Regions from separate parts of the Homo sapiens genome. Here region 2 is linked to region 1. Evidence: fine-mapped expression QTL. A gene starts in region 1. The other region holds a variant in brackets. All regions are shown on one strand. Distances are from middle to middle.

Region 1 (2,827 bases):
GGATACAGCCAAGTCCCGGGACGTGCCAGCTGCGGTAACTGAAGCCGGGTCCCGGGCGGGCGGGGGTACCAGGGACAGGAGTAGCCTTGGAAAGAGGAGAGGGCCTCCTCCCACGACCGTCCGGATCACCGCCTCTCCGCCGGCACCCCCGGGGCCCATGCCGCGAACAGGCCGGCGAGGCTGGCAAGGTGCCCGGGCCCGGGGCGGAAAGCAGGAAGTCGATCCCGCGGGCGCGGCCCAGGGTGCGGCGCTGCAGATGCAGCACGGGGTCGCGGGGCGGGCGCCCAGTGCACCGGAGGAGGTGAGCGCCAGGTCGCCTTCGCGGCCCGGGGACACAGGCAGGGACGCGGGAGCTGATGCGGCTGGACCGGCCGGGGAAACAGTATTTTCTGGAAGGGGTAAGAGATGCTGTCTTGAGCCTTTGGAATCTCGGATCCGGGCCGCCCAGAGGACCTCGACAGGAGCACAGGGAGGACAAACTGAAGTCCGAGAGAGGCGGCGTGGCCTCCGGCCTCGGGGAGCGCTGCCGGGGGTCTCGGGCTTGGGAGAGGGCCTGGGGGCGGTGAAAATGGGGGGAAAGGAGGGGACCACAACATTGTTATGGAAGAGTGAGCTCGGATTGGCAGAGGGACGCGGGGCTGCAACGCGAGTCTCCGGAGGTGGAGGGGTCCAGGCTGATGTAGCGCCGCCCGGGTCCTGGGTCGGGGTTCCGGGAAGTGGACCTGCGAGCCAAGCCTAGCCAAGTCGGGGGACGGAGGCTCCGGGGCGGACGGAGCTGAGGGTGGGCAGGCGAGGTTGATGGAGCCCTTCCAGGAAGCAGGGCGAGGCTCAAGCACCCAGAAAAACCTGTGGCTGCCGAGGTCCCCCGCCAGCAGCGGGCAGCGGAGCGCAGGGGCGGGGCTGGGGACTGGCGAACTCCGCCTCTCTGGGGCTGTCGCTTTAAGGGCAAGGCGGGGCGTGCGGGCCCTTTAAGGCCACGTGGGGGCGTGTCAGGAAGTGAGTCCAGGGCCCGCCTCCCGGGGAGTCGGCCTCGGATGTCCGGAGGCTCCTGGGCTGAGCCGGCGACAGAGCCCGGGAAGGCAGCGAGACGTGGGCGCCGGCCCAGCCCCCTCCCGCGTCCTTCAGCCCCAAGCCCCGAGCCCCTCTGACCCTTCCGCAGCCCTCCCTCCAGCCGCGCCCGGCCTCCGGCAGCTCCCTGTACGCCTCCCTCCCCCTGCCCGCCCCTCCCTCCCACAGCCGCCCATGACGCCCTCTCGGCACCTCTTCCCACTCTGCCACGCGTCCTTTTCCTGCACCTTCGCCCCGCGTACCTACTCCTGCCCCGCCCTGCCATTCCTCTCCCCTCCCTTCTCTCTGCGACCCCTCCCTGTTAGGCCCCAGCCTCTTCTCCCCTCACAGGTCTTCTCTGTCCTGGCCTCACCGCCTTATCCTATTCCTCTCCCTTGCCCTGTGTCTTGTCTCAGAGCCCCCTCGGGGTGGGAGTAGGTTGTGGAGCAGCACAACTGGGCTCACCCCAAAGCAGAACTTCTCAATCCATGAGGACAATGGGGAGGCCTTTAGGCCAGCCCACATGTGACAATGGAGGGCTGCGGCTTCCTTGCGGAGAGCACAAGTGAGCTCACTGCCCTGGACTCCAGGGAATCAGAGTTCTGGCCGCGGGGTGACCCAGCTCCTCTGCTACCATGAATAGGGCCCCTCTGAAGCGGTCCAGGATCCTGCACATGGCGCTGACCGGGGCCTCAGACCCCTCTGCAGAGGCAGAGGCCAACGGGGAGAAGCCCTTTCTGCTGCGGGCATTGCAGATCGCGCTGGTGGTCTCCCTCTACTGGGTCACCTCCATCTCCATGGTGTTCCTTAATAAGTACCTGCTGGACAGCCCCTCCCTGCGGCTGGACACCCCCATCTTCGTCACCTTCTACCAGTGCCTGGTGACCACGCTGCTGTGCAAAGGCCTCAGCGCTCTGGCCGCCTGCTGCCCTGGTGCCGTGGACTTCCCCAGCTTGCGCCTGGACCTCAGGGTGGCCCGCAGCGTCCTGCCCCTGTCGGTGGTCTTCATCGGCATGATCACCTTCAATAACCTCTGCCTCAAGTACGTCGGTGTGGCCTTCTACAATGTGGGCCGCTCACTCACCACCGTCTTCAACGTGCTGCTCTCCTACCTGCTGCTCAAGCAGACCACCTCCTTCTATGCCCTGCTCACCTGCGGTATCATCATCGGTGAGTGGCAGCTGGGGCCACGGGGGATAGAGTGGTCATGGGGACTGAAGCAGTGAAGAACAACTCTTCTAGGCATCCTAGGACTTCATCTGTCCCAGCTCCTTTGGTGCAGCAGTCATAGGAGAAAGAGCCTGGGGGCACAGAGAGAGCAAGTAACTTACTAAAGGTCACCCAGCAAGTTAGGAGCCCAGCCGGGGCAAGAACAATAGTAATAATAATAGTAACAACAGCAGCAAAAGCAACTGACATTTGTTGAGTGATTAAAATGTGCCAGGCACATGGATCTTAGCCATATTAACTCAGCTAATCTTCATAACAAGATGGGATTATAATCCACATTTTACAGAGGGAAAAACCAAGGCACAGAGAAGTTAACTAACTTGTCCAAGATCACCCAGCTAATAAGTGGCAGAGCTGGGATCTGAACTCAAGCAATCTGGCTTCACAGTTCACATGCCCGACCACTGTACTTTATTGTTTCTCAAGAGCTCAGGTGTCCTGATTTCCCAGCCAGTGCTCTTAGTAGAGGACAATACGTCTTTTAATAAATATACCATCACTCTCTGCCAGCTCAGGATAGCGCCTGAGACAGTAGCAAGCAATATGCTTT
Region 2 (2,903 bases), 61 kb before region 1:
AAGGAGGGAAGGAAGGAAGGAAAAGAGAAAAGAAATTGTGTTTTTTTATGTTAATAAAGGAAAGTATTCTTATATCATAAATTTGGTTTTTTGAATACTTTAGTAACTGTTTTCAGTTTCTTTTATAATCCTGTGTATTTTATATCTTTCAAATCATTTTTTGGAAGACAGGCCTAATAGGCTTTATCAGACCATTAAATGGTGCCCATGGCACAAAAGTGGTTAAGATCTCCCTGCCTTGGAGAATAGGTAGATTGTTATTACAGCGATGGGAGGGAAGTATACATCCCAAATAGATGACCAGAACAGCATAAACCAAGATACAGGTGGGGAAGAGTATGAGATGCATGGCGGGATGGAATGTGCCTCCCCTCCCCATCCTTGAGGAGAAAGTCTCCTTGGCAAGATTAAGTAAAAAGACAGCGACTTTATTAGCATAATAATGCATCAAGGAGCAAGAGAATAGTTGATTTGTTTTAGACATGCTCTAAGAATCTGGAGAATTTAAATTCTGAAGGCTCTAACGTCTCCTCTGCAGGGTGGAGCCAAGACTCTGAGGAGAGGGCTGAACTGTGAACCTAGAAGTACCATCTCCCCCTGCACACACCTTTGGTCAAGTTGACCCCAAGAAGAAGGACAAGTCCTCTGCACGGCGATGAGGCCATACACACAGTCTGTGGCCCGGCTTTGGGAGACTGATGGGACAAAGGATGTTTTGCACGATCCTTGGTCTCTGAGCAAATATATACATGGGTTAACACAAAGGCTCTCTTTTTGAAAAATGTGACTGTGAAAGTGTGCCCTCCCAGATATTCCAGGCATAACACAGGAGTGACTGCATGTTTGGGGACAGTGCGGAGGCCACTCTGATTAGATCAGAGGATGTGGACTGGTTCATGATGTAAAAGCTGAAGGGAGGCCGGGCACAGTGGCTCACGCCTGTAATCCTAGCACTTTGGGAGGCCAAGGTGGGTGGATCACGAGGTCAGGAGATCGAGACCATCCTGGCTAACAAGGTGAAACCCCGTCTCTACTAAAAATACAAAAATTAGCCAGGCGTGGTGGCAGGCGCCTGTAGTCCCAGCTACTGGGGAGGCTGAGTACTGGGGAGGCTGAGGCAGGAGAATGACGTGAACCTGGGA[G/A]GCAGAGCTTGCAGTGAGCTGAGATCGCGCCACTGCACTCCAGCCTGGGCAACAAAGCGAGACGCTGTCTCAAAAAAAAAAAATGCTGAAGGGAGGGTGGTAATGAAGGGAAGAAGACTCCAGGGTTTCAAGTGCCATGGATTAAGGGAGGGAGTAAAGGCAGAGGGCCAGGACAGATGGTTGGATCTGTCTTAGAGGTGAGGTACCTTCAAGATGCCTCAGGGAAAATGGCCAGTAGTCCATCAGGACTCAAGAGTAAGACTCCAGGAAGACACTTGAAATGGGAAGAGAGCTAAGAAAATAATCCACATAGAGGTGATCATTAAAGGCGTAAAGAATAAAGCAATAACGTAAAAAAAAAAAAAAAAAAAAAAAAAAAAAGCAAGGACTGAACTTTAGGGAACAAGTAAGTAGGCTTCTTTTGTGTCCCAAAGCCAGAGAACGAGAACATTTCAAGAAGAGGGGTTAAATTCAGCCTGAAGAAGGAAGTTGCACAAAATCTCTGGATGTGGCTACCGGGAAGGCCTTGGTGAATTCTGAGCGAGCCGTTCCCACGGAGGGAGCAGTGGATGGAGGCCAGCTGAGGACTGCCGGGGTAGAGGGTGGGTGGAGCAGCCAAGGGAGACAGGAGAGGGTGGGAGCCAATGAAACGGAGAGAGGGAGGCTAGGAGATTTGCAGGCCAACAGCATCACATTAAGTTTCTTTTTAACAAGACGATCCAGTTTTTCATTAGAGAAAGAAGGAAACTGCAAATCAGGGGTATTTAAAGGTCGTGTGAAAATCACGAAAACCTCAAGTTGAATCTGTTCCCACCTAAATAACTTTTGTTTAGAAACCAAGCAAAGCCACTGAAACCATCTCAGCACAAATCCCAAAATGGAATTATTCGGATGTCTCTGAAATGGTGTAGGTGCCATGAGCCACTGTGCTAATATGCAGTGTGTCCACACAGAGCCCAGGGCCCAGTGGTGTCAGAGACAAAGGCCAGAGCTTCCCAGAAAGTTCCATAAGGACAGGAATTCAGGAAGTGGGGTCAAGGGAAGAGCTGCTGTCACTGAATATACTGCAGCTTAAGAAAATGATCCTGTTTAACCAGCACCTACTATGGGCTAGGCACTTCACCGACATTTTTCTCATCCTGAACAAGACTACGAAGTATTTTTTCTGTTACTATCCCCACAGTGGAGATAAGGAAACACAGGTTCAGGGTAAGTTGCCTCAAACCCACAGTTCGTAAGTGGCAGAGATAACCTTGGAGCCCAGGTATATCTGCCTCTAACCCCACCGTGTTCCCATCCGGCCTGGAACCTCACCCAAACACACTGGACCCTCAAAAATAAAAAAATGAATAAATAAATAAATAAGTGTCATTATCACCTGTAACAGCCAGTAAAAGACAAGTGCCCCTTGATGTGAGTGCAGCATAACTTTCCCAGTTTGACCTCTTCAAAAGTTGGGTTTTGTTGTTTTTTAAATTATCCTGAACTTGACAAACTTTATTTTAAAAAAAAAATTCACTCACTTAGTCTTTGAGTAAATGAAGAATAGGGCCATGTGTCAGTGCTGGGGACACAAGCCCTGTGCTCAAGTTGTCACAGAGAGAGAAGGCTCAGGACAGCAGGGTGGTGGGGGGGCATCTTCCTTCATAGAGGAGAGAATATGAGCCAAACCTATTTGTCTAAATTTGTTTTTATTTTCATCAAAGTATTACCTATAAATCTGAAAAACCAAATAGTGCCCCAAAAAGCTTACAATTGAAA

Which allele goes with the higher level. Alleles are on the strand shown, and positions count from the first base shown. SD is a standard deviation of normalised expression in the study named.
In carriers of allele G in region 2, the expression in prefrontal cortex of the gene that starts at base 1,030 in region 1 tends to be lower than with A alone (moderate effect, 0.49 SD a copy in ROSMAP).

The links. PIP is the estimated chance that this variant, and not a neighbour inherited with it, causes the effect. A credible set is the group of variants that fine-mapping cannot tell apart.
Region 2: its variant is the best candidate, but not a certain one, in a credible set for the expression of SLC35C1 in prefrontal cortex (ROSMAP, PIP 0.65).

The regions. Positions count from the first base shown.
Region 1 is chr11:45,804,120-45,806,946 of GRCh38, forward strand. It overlaps SLC35C1 (solute carrier family 35 member C1), which reads left to right and starts at 1,030. Exons shown (of 2, transcript NM_018389.5): 1 at 1,030-2,217. The coding sequence starts at 1,683. RefSeq lists silencers at 155-324, 1,055-1,284.
Region 2 is chr11:45,743,491-45,746,393 of GRCh38, forward strand. No RefSeq gene overlaps it. Among named protein-coding and RNA genes, the nearest start is that of LINC02690, 6.7 kb to the right of the region's middle. RefSeq lists enhancers at 1-505, 642-1,143, 1,144-1,643. The variant G/A (reference allele first, on the strand shown) is at 1,143.